Homo sapiens: one gene and its partners. The protein of the gene in region 1 interacts with the protein of each later gene in a pairwise test. Each region holds a gene or a part of one and is shown on either strand. Other genes may lie near its edges.

Region 1 (5,792 bases):
TGAAAATAACTTCATTTTGCTATACTGAATTATACGTATTTGACCATTGTATTCTGAATAATCAAACACATACATACAAACCGAATAGCACCAGAACTTATCATCACCCCACTTCTCTTCCATCAAACTTAAAACAAGTAATCTCACTTAACAGTATCCCTTTAAACCTGTCCAATCACCTACTATTGAAACTGAGGATCATCCCAAACTAACTGTCCCTATCTATCCATATGATCACACAAATCTCTCAATCTTTTTGCCCCTCTCAAATTCATCGCATTCCGAAACCACAATCCAGACAGGACTATTGCCACAACTTCCTAAAAGGTCTTCCCACTACCCAATATCTTCTCCCTCGAACTCAGGGTTTCTCAACCTCGCATTATTCCCATTTTGAACTGAATAATTCTGTGTTGTAGGAGGCTGTATGGTCCTGTGCACTGTGACACGTTAAACAGCATACCTGGTCTCTAACTACTAGATGCAGGTAGCTGCCCTTCTCCTAAAATGATGCCGAATGTCTCCTGGGAAGAAGGGGTGCCCATCTCCCCATCTTTCCTCATTCCCCATTGAGCAATCACTTAAAAACTTTTTGATAATTACCTGTGGCCTGCAGACAAATCTAAACCTCTTAACAATGGTATACTATTCACATGTTCTTCCTCCCAGGTAGCTTCAGAACCTCTTTTATTCACACCCTTACTCGTTCTATGTTCCTAAAATACCAGACTACCAGAAATTCTCTGAACAAGTCTTTGCTTTACATCTGCACTGACAGTGCAGTTCAACAGGGTTTGCTAAAGAATCACACGGATCAAAATGACAGTGTTTGCAAATCTACAGTTTATTACTGTAGGTTATGTTATAAATCTACAGTTTATAACATTATACGACTATATATGTCTATGTAAGCTCTCTGAGGTCAGAGTCAGTCTCTGGGAGGTAGTATAATAAAGTGGCTAAGAATTTAACTTGGGACTGAAAAGAGCCCCAAAAGGAAAAGAATATAAAACATTACAGCCAAAGGCTGCCTCACAGCAAGAGATCTGAAAAGGTCAGGTGTGGGCTCCTTCGGCTTCCCTTTGTTAGGTGTGTGGCCAGACATATACTCTCTCAGATCTGGAACCACCCAAGTGTGCAAAGAAAACACCCTGGAACCAAGCAACCCAAAATAGAGTCCTGATTGCATTTTTAAATATTTTGCTGGTCACATAGGCATATTCCTGCTACGCAGCTAGTCTCAACAACAGAGCTCTGGGTTGGGGGTGTGGTCTCATGAAGACCAGGAGCAAATCATCAATCTCATTGTTACCAATAAATAATGTTGACAAACTGGTACAAACTGCCCCCAAAGCCCTTGGACTCACAGTCACAAAGCTATTATAATAGCTTCATATTAAAGCTAATAATAATAGTTTTGTGACTATTAATAAATATAACTATAGTCACAAAACTATTATTATTCAGTGTATTTTCAATGCCATGCACAAATGTTAGCAATATAGCTCAGGCTAATTTCAGGCCTGCTGGAACTGTCATGAACATATCTGCCTGGGGCCCCTTCTTCTCTCCTCTGCCGCCTTGTAGAGCAACGGCTACTTATCTTGCAGACTCACCTCTAACATCAGCTCCTCAGCTAAATGTCCCCTGATGATCCTTCTGTCTCCTGCCAGCACTATACCTAGTGTGTACCTTTATTGTCACATTTAACATTTTATGACTATATATGTCTGTGTAAGCTCTCTGAGATCAAAGTCAGTCTCTGGGAGGTAGTATAATAAAGTGGTTAAGAATTTAACTTGGGACTGCGTTACTGATTTAGCTACTTCTACGTTTTATGCCCTTGGTTCTTAGCCTATCTAAACCTCAGTTTCATCAGTAAAAAAGGAGTAAGAGCTATAACAATTTCATATCGGGCTTTCCTGAGAACATACCTGAAATGCTTAACATACTGTCTACACATAACAGATGCTAATTTGTTAGCCATTGTAGTAGTATCCTTAGCACTAATCACTGAGTCTGCATACACAAAAATCCAGGAAATGTTTATTAAATTCAAACAAAGAAAATGTCGGCTTATACTTTTTATCACAATTCCTGCTATCTTCTTTTCTGTCCCCTGGTGCTAATCCATGAAGGTAAGTAAGCCTAAGGGTCATCCTTGGCCTCCCCTCCCTGACCCACTATAGCCAAATCATTACCAAGTCCTGTTGATTCTACCTACTACCTTCTCTCCAATCCTTTCACTTTTCATTTACCCCACTGCTATCACTCTACTCTAAGCCACTATCATTTCTTGTCTAGACCACCATAATAACCTCCTAATCAGCCTTCCACATCCGCTCTGCAACATCTTACCATCACTTCTCTACCTGCACAAGTTATTATTAATGCAGCTACCAAGAATATTCTCGTCATATCACTGAACTGCTTATAACCCTCTGATGGCTTCCTACACTTTCAGGAAAAACAAATCCTTAACATGGTCAGCAAGACACTATCTGGCCTGCCCCTGCTGACCCCCTTGCTCTGGCTCCTTATTCCCAACCATATTGGACCTCTCTCTATGGCCCTGAAATTCTCAGTGTTCACTACTACCACAGGCTATTCCCCCTCCTCCCTTACCAAGGTGTTTATAGCTCATCCTTTAAAGTTCAGCTTAAAATAATTTTCCAAAGGAAGTCTTCCTTCATGGATCCTACTTACTGCTCTTAAGGCACAGTTCTGATGAATGAGCAGATACCAGTTAAGAAAAGCAGGGTGAGAGGGGAATCATGAATGATGGCAGTGACCCTATCTGTTTCGACCACTTCTGTACCACTGGCACCTAGTATTCAATAGCTACTCAAATGTTAAATGCGCCTACCAACCAAAATTGAAGCTCAGTAAAGACTGTTCTAACCAACCGAATAAACCACATTCTGTTAAAGTTTCTTTTTTATATAATCCCAAATATCAGAAGGGGCCTCTCATTTATCACAGCAATTCTTTCTACAACTCCCTTGGCAAATGGCCGTTCAACCTGTAATGGAGCTCTTCCAATGACAAGGACCGTATTAACCAACAGTCCTAATATTGGTAAAACTGAAAAGCAATGAAGTTAGACATTGGCAGCACTCCAAATCCAATTAAATTGGAGGTGTGGATTAGAGAGTAGAGGGTTGACACTGGGTACTACAGAGTATAAATGATTTTCTTTAAGGGAATCTTTTAAGGAAGAAAGTTCAATAGGCCTTAAAAATGAGATGGAAAGAAATGCTAAAGGGAGCATTTCTGGAATTCATATATTTTAACACCCGGTCTTAACATCTCTCACCCAAGGTTTATTAGAGGAAAGTCAAATGCTGGGCATCAGCTACCTAGAAGCGATTTTTGAATTAGCCTAAGAACGGGGAAACACGGACAGGAAAGTGCCATCCCTCAAGTTACACCCCCAATCCTGGAGCCGCGAGTTGGGGCCCAGGGACTGCTAGGCCCCTGATACCTGGAACTCCAGGGTGCACTTGGTGCCCTGAGCGATGTCCTCGTAGAAGCACTGCTTGGCGTTGTCAGGAAGCTCGAAGGTGATCTCAGAGGCGCCGCCGGGTCCAGGCACCAGTAGCAGCAGTGCGAGCAGCCTGCACCCCCAACGGCCCGCGACGGCCGCCCAGCGCTGCGCGGACCCCGGCCGCGGCATCCCGAGAAGGCGGCGGCGGCCTCAACCGAGCTGCGAGACGCAGGGTCAGGTCTGCGCGGACTCACCGCGCGCGGCAGGCCTCAGCGCAGGCCACCCCGCAAAGATACACAGCAGAGCAGGTTCACGCCTGTGGGAGATTCGGGATCAGAGCGACCCTCCGGCTTCCTGTGAGGGGCGCAGACGGGCGGACCTGGGGAGGTAAAAGAGAAGCGGAAAAGGCCTGAGAGGGTCGGAAGTGGGGATTAGCCTTTCGGGGGGTGAAGGGGCGGAGCCTGAGACACCGGCTCCCGTGACCCGGATGCGTTCTTCTCCGGGAACACGCGTTGGAGTGCGTACGTGGAAGCCCGCGAGGCGTTGGCTCTGCCTCCGTTGCAGCCTGGGACGAGGGGCGGGGCCAGAGTCGTGGGCGGAGAGGGGCGAGACCAGGAAACGGGGCGTGGCGGCCGCCGTGGTTACAGGCGGTTGGCGAGGGTAATTACGCTCCAATCACTGGCTTTTTTTGTTGTTTTTTTTTTTTTTTTTTTGAGACAAGAGTCTCGCCCTGTCACCCAGGCTGGAGTGCAGTGGCGCGATCTGCGCTCACTGCAACCTCCGCTGGGAACTTAGCGCTGGGGAGCATCTAGGGAGTGGTAAAGGGCTCATTTTGCCCTAGGGTGCTAATCGTTGGTGGTAGAGCGCTTTGCAATTTGCGGAGTTTTCTCATAAGTAATAATAAATATTTGGGGGAAGCAGCTGGGCAAGGAGCGCGAATTCTAAGAGCAGACTGCAGGAGTGCTTAATCCCTGCTTTGCCACGTACTGGCTGTGTGACGTCCGGCCACTTGCTTAAATTCTCTGCCTCAGTGTGTATCTGTAGAATGGAGATAATAGCACCTACCATAGAGAATTATTACAAAGTACCAATATTTGGAAAAAGTACCTAGAAGTGGTTGGTACATAGCAAGCACTAGATGAACTTTTGTTAAATTAAACGTCACAGTGCAATCAATACATTACATACCACAAGATAGGCAAAAATTTTAAGTGTAACAATAACAGATATTGGTCGACTTATAGAGCCACAAAACCTCTTATACACTGCTAGTGAAAAAGTAAATTGGTTAATCAAGTTGGAAAACAATGTGCCATTATCTAATAAAGTAGAATATATGTATACACACACAGAACACACACACCTATATACAGTGTGTGTGTGTGTGTGTGTATATATGTATATATATATATATATATATAGCCTGGAATATGTAGCCACAGCCTGGAAATTCCATTTTACATATATTTATGGAGTATATGCTTTAGAGCAGTGGTTCTCAAGTGTTGCTCTGAAGTCCCCAGAAGCCTCCTGAAACCCTTTCAGAGGGTATGTAATGATCTGTATGAAGCTGGATTTTCATTATATATTTCAACCAAAACAGCATAACAGATTGAATATCAAAGGAAATGAGCACCCAGCTTCTTCCTTAAATCTAGATATGAAAGATTTACAAAAATAAGGTCACTCTTCTTGCTAAATTTTTATTTCGAAAATATTTTTATTAAAAGATGTGTTATTTATGTAAATGTGTGCAGTGAGTTGAATTGTGTCCCCCTAAAAAATACATGTCCAAGTTTCAACCCCTCCACCCCTGTGAATATGATTTTATTTGGAAATAGGGCTTTTGCAGATGTAATTAAGTTAAGGCCCTCAAGATGAGGTCATCCTGGGACTTAGGGTGGGCCCTAAATCTAAAGACTGTTATCCTTATGGTATGGTTTGGCTGTGTCTCCACCCAAATATCATCTTGAATTGTAGTTCCCATAATCCCCACATGTCACGGAAGGGACCCGGTGGGAGGTAATTGAATCATGGAGGCAGATTTTTCCCATGCTGTTCTGGTGATAGTGAATAAGTCTCATGAGATCTGATGGTTTTATTGTAGTTCCCATAATCCCCATGTGTCATGGGAGGGACCTGGTGGGAGGTAACTGAATCATGGGGGCGGGTTCTTCCCATTCATTTATGTTTCCCATAAAGCAGTATTGTGTTTATAATGCATTATTTGTGTTTATAAACATATAATGCACGTATAATGCATTATTCATGTTTATAAACATTGTTCATGTTTTATAACAGGTAG
Region 2 (4,979 bases), on another chromosome or scaffold:
TTCTTTTTCTGGGTTTTTCGACTTGCAGAACTCTGGAGGAGGGCCTGGAAAACAGGAAGAAGGGAAAAAAATTTTGAGAAATGTGGAGGAAATTAAAAATAAAGGGTTACTTTCAGTACTGCAGCTCTTTTCAGGACTTTGCTGGCATTTAGCCCTCACTCCCAAGCAGGATACCATGTACATACTCACCACCTTCTATTCCATACTAACCTTTAGCTCTGCATCCTGGACCTCCATCTCAGACTTGTAGAGGTCAGGCTCGAAGGGACCACTGGTTATCCGCATGGGGCCATTGGGCATGAGCAGAACTGTAAATTTAAACTGGGCAACAAATTCACCTATGGCAAAAATGAAGATGTGTTTTGATAAAAAGTTCCTTTGTCATACTTAGCTCTTCTGAACTTACAGGAAGGATATCTTATAATCAGGGAATCCAAAGTGAAGCTCTTTTTGGAACTCACCCTCCTTCTCATAGAGAACATTAAATGGTTGCAGCAGTTCATGTTTGGCGCACTCCACCACACCCATCCGAGCCTTCTTCTCATCTTCAAATGCTCTGGCAGGGAAGATGATATTCAGAGGTATCTTTAACTCCCCATCAAGTCTTACCATTTTGCTCATATTTTAAAATAGCTCCTACCCTCAGGCAGAAATCATGCTTAGGATTGCTCTTTTACATTACCTTCAATGAGAAGGAGATGGGGAGAGAGAGGGAGGGAGTGAGCACATGCACGCTACAAGTCTAGGCAGGAAGGGAGAGGAAAAAGTGTTCCTGGGTGTATGGTCTGTGAGTCAGACTGGTTCCAAGTACTATCATTGCTTAGTACCTTAAAGTAAACGGCATGGCATCAAAACGCCTTTCCACCTCACTGAAGAAGGCACGTGAAGTTTTCATTTTCAGTCCATACTGTTTAGAGGGGTCTCGTTTGTAAATAGTGGTTCTCTGTCCTGCATCCTTGGCCTGAAAGAGTAATTTAAGTAACATTTGGTCTGGTGAACACTCTCAGTCACCCCTCTTTGCCAACTCTGGTACTCTCCTCACCTTGCCCTCTCCTGAGCTGACGAGAACATCCACAGCATATACTTCATGTACCTCAAATTCAGCTTTTTCATGGTCCTTCCTAAAAGGAATAGAGAGAAAGGAATTTTTTTTTTTTTTTGACACAGAGTCTCATTCTGTCACCCAGGCTGGAGTGCAGTGGCACAATCTCAGCTCACTGCAACCTCCACCTCCCGGGTCCAAGCAACTCTCCTGCCTCAGCCTCCCAAGTAGCTGGGACTATAGGCACAAACCACCAGGCCTGGCTCATTTTTGTAGTTTTTAGTAGAGACAGGGTTTCGCCATGTTGGTTAGGCTGGTTCTGAACTCGTGACCTCAGGTGATCCACCCGCCTCAGCCTCCCAAAGTGCTGGGATTACAGGCGTGAGCCACCGCGCCCGGCCTAGAGAAAGGGAATATTAAGAGCAACAGGTCACTCCTGAAAACATGGAGTAGAGGGCGGACAAGATTCAGTTGGGAGTATAGAAAAAAACCTGATGACTAGTCTTGTGTGGTAGAAGGTAATAAGTAGGGTTGGCACCTACTTCTGCTGGTCTGTGGGATTCTGGATAATGGTTTTTTCTCCATCGATGACATGCTGCTTCAACTGGTGTGACAGCATACCTGTAGATAGTACACAACCTATGGAACAAGCTATCCAGTATCCCAAAAGGTTTCCAAATCCACCCACTTCAGTAGTTTGAAGTGGTAGGCAGTGAGACAACTACCTGGTTATGGAAACACAGGGCTCTGAGATTTCTGGCTTAGACTGGGTTATAGCCAGGATAGATCTTCAAGGGAGCAAAAGCCTCAATTCTGCAAAGCCACTCATTCTTTTTTTTTTTTTTTTTGAGATGGAGGAGATGGAGTTTCGCTCTTATTGCCCAGACTGGAGTGCAGTGGCGCAATCTTGGCTCACTGCAACCTCCTCCTCCCGGGTTCAAGCGATTATCTCGCCTTAGCCTCCCAAGTAGCTGGGATTACAGGCACCCACCACCACGCCCAGCTAATTTTTATATTTTTAGTAGAGACGGGGTTTCACCATGTTGGCCAGGCTAGTCTCAAACTCCTGACCTCAGGTGATCCGCCCACCTCAGCCTCCCAAAGTTCTGGGATTACAGGCGTGAGCCACCGCACCTGGCAAAGCCACTCATTCTTAGACCCTCAACCCTGTTATCTGTTCTCACCTTCTATTGGCGTGCAGTTAAATGAGTGGGCAACTTTGTTCCAGGCTTCTGTCACTTGTGTGTTCTAGAAGTACAACATCAAATGAAAGGTGAGATATCAGGAGCTAATAAGTTCTCTACAATGAGAATAAGAAGCATAAAAGAACTGAGCGTTTTTTTTTTTTTTTTTGAGATGGAGTCTGGCTTTGTCACCAGGCTGGAGTGCAGTGGCGTGATCTTGGCTCACTGCAATCTCTGCCTCCCGGGTTCAAGCTATTCTCCTGCCTCAGCCTCCTGAGTAGCTGGGATTACAGGCACGCAACACCACGCCCAGCTAATTTTTGTATTTTTAGAAGAGACGGGGTTTCACCATGTTGGCCAGGATGGTCTCGATCTCCTGACCTCGTGATCTGCCCACCTCAGCCTCCCAAAGTGCTGGGATTACAGGCATGAGCCATTGCACCTGGCAGAACTGAGCGTTCTAATATCCTCCATCAAGCCCCAATGATTGTCATTCACTGGTTTTTCATTTCATAGCTTGATTATCCCTACAATCTAAAAATACTTTATACAGATGCTCCCCAACTTGCAATGGGGTTACATCTCCAAAAAACTCATAAGTTGAAAATATCACTAAGTCAAAAATGCATTTAATACCCCTAACCTACCTAACATCACAGCCTAGCCTATGTTAAATGTGCTCAGAGCACTTAAAAAACATTATCCTACAGTTGGGCAGAATTATCTAACACATGCCTATTTTATATTAGTGTTGAATATCTCATGTAATTTACTAAATACTATATGGAAAATGAAAAACAGAATGGTTGTATGGGTACTCAAAGTATAGCTTCTACTGAATGTAGCATCAAGCTGAGGACCAGCTGTAACTGCATATCATTTTACCCAGTGCTTTCACAAAGATGGTCTAACTCAATAAATTTTGCATGTGAACAGGGCAGATGTATATCCCAATCTAGAAGACAAGGAAACTGAGTCTCAGGTTAAATGATTTGCCCCAGGTTAAATGAGTGTTAAGTGAAAGAACTTGGTCATAAACCTGGGTTTTCTTTTTTCTTTTTGTAGACGGGTCTCGCTATGTTTCCCAAGCTGGTCTCAAATGCCTGGGTTCAAGCAATCCTCCCACCTTGGCCTCCCAAAGTGCTGGGATTACAGGCATGTGCCACCACATGCCTATAATATTAAGTCCAGTGTTTATCCTTTTTTACCTGGCATTCTAATCTGTTTTGTGGGGACAGCAAATGCTTATTTTTCCTTTTTCTTTTGTGAGACAGGGTTTCATTGTTGCCCAGGCTGGAGTGCAGTGGCATGATCATAGCTCAGCACAGCCTCAATCTCCCAGGCTCAGGTGATTCTCCCACCTCAGCCTCCCTGGAAGCTGGGAATACAGGCACATGTTACCACGCCCAGCTAATTTTTGTATTTTTTGTAGAAATGGGGTTTCACCATGTTTCCCAGGCTGGTCTTGAACTCCCAGCCTCAAGCTATCCTCCTACCTTGGCCCCCCAAAGTGATGGGATTACAGATGTGAGTCACTGTGCCCAGCTAAATATAGCTAATTTTAAAAAGCTGTTTTATAAGGGGTCTGTAGGGGAGGTTGGTAGTTTCATATAGAGTAGCTATAGGTGCCTAATGCATCTTTGGTTCAAACGAGCTTTGGAATTGGATAAAATAGCTTACCTGATTTCCAGGTTTGACCAGGCGTAGGGCAGCTTCAGCACAAAGGTGAGCTGCCTTAATAACATCTGCTTTCCTCCCTGTTACTTGGGTCCCCTGTAGATAAGGACATGCAATCAGTATCTTCCTGGAAAGTCTGTTAACTCAGCTGGCTATCTGGTTAATATCTGTGAGCCCATATGCGAAGACCAGCCAATGAACAGGAGGGTAAAAACAACAACAACAACAAAAACCTTTCTCCTTTTGCTTCTCTAGAGACTCTCTCAACTTACGTGGTGATTGGGGGTGGGGATAAGAAGCAAATGGCAGTGCATTCCCTCTACCCCAAGGCTAAACAGAGATCAAAAGCAGGCCACCTACCTGAGCTACATCAACCACAAAAGTGTGAGCTACATTAGCGATGAAGCCATCCACATGGACCCCAAGGTCACTGAAAGGCAAGATCAGAGTACTGCATTAGGAACTGGCATTTTGTAAATGCTTTAAAAAAAGAAAAATGCTTTAAAACGGTTTAACCTTACATTTTTACCAAGTCACCTTCCTTGAGAATATAATCCTGGTCGCTCTTCAAAGGGGAGAAGTGACATACACAGTTATTTACCGAAATGCTGGTGGGAAAAGCAATACCTGTAAAGAAAGAATCATCAGCCTACTGCCTTGCTGTCTCCCGGGAGCCCTAGTGCCCTTCAGAAATGTAGAAGGATTTTTTCAGGGTCTTGCTTAAGTTTCATCAGTTTGGATTAGGTAGGAAACTGCTTGTATCCCACTTGCCATTCCAAATTTCCAAATACCTCAGCCAGAGCTGGGGTGGGGACTGCGTCATTACAGTGAAAAAAATAAAAACATATAGGACCAAATAAGGGTCAAACGGAAAATTAGTGAGGGATTTTTTTTTTTTACCTTTCTTCATTTCCTTTTCTTTCTTGAAGATTTTCCCTGTTTCTTCCATAATCATGGCATCACCTTTCTCACACAGGCTCAGTACCGACACACCTGAGCTAGATGCTTCCACCAAGGACCGAAGTACCCCTGAGGACAGAATCCCATCATGTCAGCCTTGTATGTATTCATTGTCT
Region 3 (5,588 bases), on another chromosome or scaffold:
AGGATGCCCACCCTTCGTCTTATACTTAGAAATCTGCAGGAACCCCAGGAATGACATCTTCACATTCCAGCTGCTCTGTATTTAAGTTGGATTTAGAAAATGACCCCAAATTGTCAAATCAAAGATTGACATTTAATCGAAAGGCTGTGTCAGTTCCCGTTTGCCCTGCTTCTCTGTCAGGCTGCCCTGAGGGCACTGCAGGGGCCCCACGCCTCCTCTGTGCTTGGTCCTTGAGGACATTGCCTGGAATAAACAATGAAATGTACAGCATTTCTCCAAAGAAGGAATGCAAATGGCGCACAAGTATGAAAAAGCTTTCAACTTCTTGACCAGCCTGCCCAACACGGTGAAACCCGCCTCTACTAAAAATACAAAAATTAGCTGGGTGTGGGGGCATGTGCCTGTAATTCCAGCAACTCAGGAGGCCGAGGCAAGAGAATCGCTTGAACCCGGGCGGTTGGAGGTTGCAGTGAGCCGAGATCACGCCATTGCACTCCAGCCTGGGCGACAGAGCGAGACCTCGTCTCAAGAAAAAGAAAAAAAAAAAGCTTTCAACTTCTTGAGAAATGAAAACAATGCAAATGAGACATAACTACATGCCAACTTCACAATGATTCACATGAAGTGAAAGGAAATGGTCCCCCACCTACAGTCACAGGGGTAGAAACTGTGTAAACTTCCCAGCTGTGTAAACTTAGACACCGGAAAGCTCAAAAACAGATGAAAGTTTTGACCTAGCAGTTCCACTTCTAGGAATTTATCCTAAAATGTCACCATAGATATACGCAAATATCGACCCCCAAGGACACTTAGAAGAATGGCACTTATAATATTGATGCACAGGAAACGGACCAAATTACCCACAAAAAAGAACGGGTGAAATAACAAATGAGGTACACATATAATGGAATACCTATAGGAGGACAAGATGATATAGAAAACGGTTGGAGAGATTTTCTGTAAAGGACCAGACAGTAAATACAGCACTTAAACTTTATGGGCCATGCGGTCTGTCCTAACGACCCCACTCTGCTGTTATGGCGTGAAAGCAGCCACAGACAGTATGTGAACAAATGAGCATGTCTGTGTTCCAATAAAACTTTATTTACAAAAGAAGGGGGTGGGCCAGATTTGACCCATCAGCCATAGTTTGTCAACATCTAGAAAATATTTAATTATTTAATGCCATAGAAAGGTGAAGGTGATATTGTTAAAATTTTTTAAAAGCTTCAAAATAATACAAATAGTACATGTTACTTCCAAAGGAAATATAGATATATAGATAGAAAAAGGCAAGAAATTCAATAATAAATTGCTAATAGGATTATCTCTGAGTAATGATGCCGTCGTGGGTAATTTTTAAAAATCTTTTCAATGAACTGTATTTTCTAAATTGTTCTTCTAATGAACAATACATTACTCTATTTACAAGGAAAAGTTTTTGTTCCTCCCCACTACTTAGTCATAGCAAAATAATCAAAAAATAAGAGAAAGGAATATTATAGTGCTATTAATATTCATATTATTTATATTATAAAATATTAGGAACAACTATAGGTCAAACTATGATCAAATGGCTGTGTAAATTGCATATCTACTTGATGGAATACTGTGATTCCATAAGAAAAAATTTATAAAAACCTTTTATGGAAAAAACCCACCTGCCTATATCTGTACTGTGCATGAAACCACACATACGGGCAAAAGCAGGAAGAGACTTTGCAGACATAAAAACCAGGTAAGTTTTGGGAGTCAGGTGATTGCAAGATTTTTTTTTCTTTCATTGACACTTAGCTAATTTTGAGCCATATTTTTAAATGTGTGTCTTTTCAGTTACTTGAAACCTCTTCTCCCACCTCCCATCCTTTCCAAACCTCCTCCAAGCCAATTTTCCAGTTGGTTTAAAAGAAATCATTAGGGTGACCCCCACTCCCACTTTCTGGAACCTCAGGCAGAGCTCCTGTGGTTCCTCCCTAGCACCAATGTGTCAGGAATCTGCCTGCGTCCAAGCCCTGACTTCCAGAACCGGCAACCCCACAGCTCCCTTTGACCAGTCCTGACTATCTCTGGTCAAAAAGATCCTAGCCGTATAGGTTGCTAGAGAGTCCACTGTTTTATCAGGCATTTGTGACTTATTTACGAAACCAACTTTTTTCCTTCAGTTGTTAGGAGCCACTCCGTCATCTGCTGCTGGATTTTAATCTAGGCCTCTAATATCTTTGGCGACATCCAGTTTATCCTGAGTTTTCGGAGGGACTGGTGGCCACTGCTTCTCAGGACTTCCTGGAGGACTCAGAGATTTCCTGGCCAGGATCTGACCTCCTTCAGGATTGACAGGACAATTGTGGAGCCCCAGTCTCTGAAAACCTCCAACAAGAGAAGAAAACACCGGTCTCCAGGGAGAGAGCAAAGGGCTTAACGAAACGATCCCCTCTCCAATGCCCCTTCTCCCTGAGATTCTGCAGATCTAGGGAAGTGCAGGTGTCCAGCCTGTGGGTGTCAGAATGGCTGGGGAGATATTTCCCCCACAGGGACAGTCAGTCACATTGGTCACCTACATGAGGGTATGGGCAGAAATCACAGAGTCCTCACCTGGGTCCACTTACCTGGTGCAACAGGACTTATTTTCAAATCATCAAGGCCAAAAAGCGATCGGAATGAGAAGGGGGCTTCAACAGCAGGCGGATCATTTTCCCCCATGGTGACTATTTCAGGACCTCTGACATCCGGCTCCGCCTCCACCTCTACCTCCTTAGCCGAGGAAGAACAGAAAGCATTTGTTCCCCTATTTATACTTGTAGCATCAGGTGCATCTTGGTCATACGGTAAATCTTTGAAATTCGACAGTCCACACAAAGCGCATTCAGTATCGATTAACCAAAAACAGTCATCTGGTGAGAATGCATTTTCGTCTGAGCTACAGCAGATAACAGAAAAGCTTCTAGAATTAGCAAAAAAAAAAAAAAAAAAAAAGTATGAACTTAATTCTGCTAAGACAATGACTTTCCCATTGTTTGTCCAACCAATCTTCAAATCGATTGCTTTAGAGGGACTCCCTCTCACCATTTAGAAGTTGCCATATTGCTATTGTTCAGAAGATAAATTACTCTCAAAGCCCTTTCCATTGCTTTTTTGCGATTGTTTTCACCTGTCCCACATAAACGCAATTCTTTCCCTGTGCGTGTGGTACACCTACCATAAGCATAAGTAGTTTCGGTACTCACATAATTCCCGAGTCCCAAAAATGTAGATGGCACCACGGAAGAGATAGTAGGCCACAGTGTTACTGGCTTCCCATAAACACAGCCCTTTCCTGGCTCACACGGGCATGACCTAATTAAGAACGAAAGTACCCGAGCCGTCCGGTGCCCGGTCCTTCCCCCACATAGCAAAGTGGGGAGTGGCTTTGGACCAACGGCTTGCATCAAAATAACCCCGGGGCTGTGTTTCCTACGAAAGAATTCCACCTATCACAATGCCAAGGAGACCAGAGACCTTTCTAAGTCATTCCCTGTAACTCTGAGAGGGCGGAGGAAGCAGGGAAATAGCAGAAGATTCCCAATTAAATTCTAGTTCCCTCTCCCAGATATCAGGCATGGCTGCTCTGGGAACCTGCTTCCTCCAAGGGCTAAAATCCACAGGGGCTCCAGCAGGCACATCAGCACAGACACTCAGATCATCCGCTTTCATTCCCTTTGTGACTACCTGTTGTAACGTTTGAAATTCCAAAGGGATCTAGTAAGCCATTTGAAGCAACCCGTGTTTCCCAAGATCATAGTAAAATCTAAACAAGAGTTCTGTGCCAAAAATGTTCATTTCATTTCTATCGCAAGAAGAGCTTGAAAGAGTAACTTAGAAAAGCAAGAAGTTCATGTTGGGCCATTTTCTGGCTTTCATTCTTGCTGATACCTCTGTTTATTATCAGCATGTAGCAAATTACATCGTTTATCCATATAAAAAGAATAAGTGGGCAAATGGCTTCTGAAAGATGGAACCTGGGTGAGAACATCCCCTCCCAAACAGGCTGTGGTTGGCAAGCTGTACAACACTGAGAAGTGTTGAGAAGCATCTTCTCTCCTCACACCCATTTTACTCACCATTTCTGGAGCTGCCATCATTAAAAGCAGAAATAATTTCCTTTTTCATTATAAAAACAAGTGTGATGGTAAGCAGGCCGCCAACAGGTTAGTCCAATCGGGGAATATTTTCCCCAAGTCACTCAGCCTTGTCGACTCAATCATCGCAGCAAATGGCATTATCGCGGGCATCTGTGTAACCCAAGCTGCCGTGGGCCTATCAAATAGCCCTTGGTGGTATGGCTGCAGAGACCAGGGAGGGAAAAATGTGGCTTCCCTTTAATTAGTCAGTAAGGTGAGCAAACCTTTTCAGAAGCTTTGCATCAGGGAGTGATCGGAACACAGCCGCTCCTTTTACTTGAAAGAAGGGGTAGGCTCTGCCCAGTGCTGAGCATGTGACCGTCAAGAGGGCAGACATACTCTCTGGTGGGGGTTTCTGTCCCTCCCTGTAACTGAGCCCCCAAGTTCAATTCTGCAGCTACTCCTGCAGACAAAAGATGGGGAGCCTGAAGATGCTCATCACAGCCTGCGCTCCACAAAAGACACGTCATGTTTCCTTCCTCGGAGGCCTCTGCATCCCAAGAGGCTTCTGCACACAGCACTGCTTAAAGGGGTTTAACCGCTGCTGTGGGGACCAGAGCGCTGAGCATCTTTGAAGGGCTGAATTTACCATTGTGGATGGCAACTCGCAAATCCATGCATTTATTCAGCAAATATTTAGCAAGCATCTGCCATGGGCCAGACTCTAGACACAGTGCAGCCAGCAAGAAAAACAAAGTGCTCCCATGGGGCCCCAGATGTTAAGCGCTAGGAAGAGATTAGGCCGGGGAGGGTCTGAGAGAGATGAGGGCAGAGTGGTACAGGACGGCCTCTAGGGAGAGTGTTGTTTCAGCAGGGACCTTGATGATGTTTTAGTAGAGACCTTGGTGACCAGTGAAGTGAGTCTTGTGAAATTCCTCCAAGGAGGGCGACCACCAGCTCCAAAGCCTGGAATAGGGGCCACGCTGGAGTGTTTGAGGAACCCCAAGAGGGGCCGTGAGCCTAGAAAGCAGGGAACAGGGAATAGCCGATGGCAGATCCCAAGGCCCAGGGGCATGGGAAGGGCTCTGGTTTGCCTTTGATGTGTGGAAAGCCTTGGGCGATCTCAATGGGGCAAATTTGGGTTGACAGGCAGGGCATAGAGTGGGGTAAGGATGGGGGGACACAAGGACAGCCACAAGGAGGCTGCACCTCATGGGCCACAAGGGCCATGACTCGGCACGAGTGGTGATGACGGTGAGGACTGGCTGCCTGAGGTTGATTTTGAAGGCAGAATTGGCAGGATGTGCTGACGGCAAACGCCTGAGAGATGCGTCCAGGCAGTCCTTGATTAAGACAGTCTTACTTTCTCCGTCCCAGTAGGTACCTGCCCACACACCTGTCAGTGCCTTTGGGTGTGATCTATGGTCTCCTTCAAGCTCACACATCTCTCCTTCACCTATTTCCTGACTACTCTTTCTGGTCCCTCAACGA

What was found. Proteins that work in one complex are often made in the same cells at the same time.
Region 2: the proteins of TMED7 (region 1) and PA2G4 interact in binary tests that used the Homo sapiens proteins (3 or more experiments, as listed by UniProt).
Region 3: the proteins of TMED7 (region 1) and TMPRSS3 interact in a two-hybrid assay, tested with the Homo sapiens proteins (one large-scale study listed by BioGRID and IntAct).

What each region holds. Positions count from the first base shown.
Region 1 is NC_000005.10:115,622,117-115,627,908, forward strand, and holds the start of TMED7 (transmembrane emp24 domain-containing protein 7 precursor), read right to left. Parts: upstream 3,921-5,792; 5' UTR 3,677-3,920; coding exon 3,485-3,676; intron 1-3,484. Other genes in the region: TMED7-TICAM2 (TRAM adaptor with GOLD domain isoform 1 precursor), read right to left, coding at 3,485-3,676. UniProt on the Homo sapiens protein: Potential role in vesicular protein trafficking, mainly in the early secretory pathway. Appears to play a role in the biosynthesis of secreted cargo including processing and post-translational modifications.
Region 2 is NC_000012.12:56,106,541-56,111,519, reverse strand, and holds part of PA2G4 (proliferation-associated protein 2G4), read right to left. Parts: intron 4,933-4,979; coding exon 4,804-4,932; intron 4,531-4,803; coding exon 4,425-4,530; intron 4,334-4,424; coding exon 4,264-4,333; intron 4,000-4,263; coding exon 3,907-3,999; intron 2,291-3,906; coding exon 2,227-2,290; intron 1,664-2,226; coding exon 1,585-1,663; intron 1,122-1,584; coding exon 1,043-1,121; intron 962-1,042; coding exon 828-961; intron 557-827; coding exon 462-556; intron 339-461; coding exon 211-338; intron 45-210; coding exon 1-44. UniProt on the Homo sapiens protein: May play a role in a ERBB3-regulated signal transduction pathway. Seems be involved in growth regulation. Acts a corepressor of the androgen receptor (AR) and is regulated by the ERBB3 ligand neuregulin-1/heregulin (HRG).
Region 3 is NC_000021.9:42,392,718-42,398,305, forward strand, and holds the start of TMPRSS3 (transmembrane protease serine 3), read right to left. Parts: upstream 3,336-5,588; 5' UTR 3,225-3,335; intron 2,752-3,224; 5' UTR 2,701-2,751; coding exon 2,607-2,700; intron 1-2,606. UniProt on the Homo sapiens protein: Probable serine protease that plays a role in hearing. Acts as a permissive factor for cochlear hair cell survival and activation at the onset of hearing and is required for saccular hair cell survival. Activates ENaC (in vitro).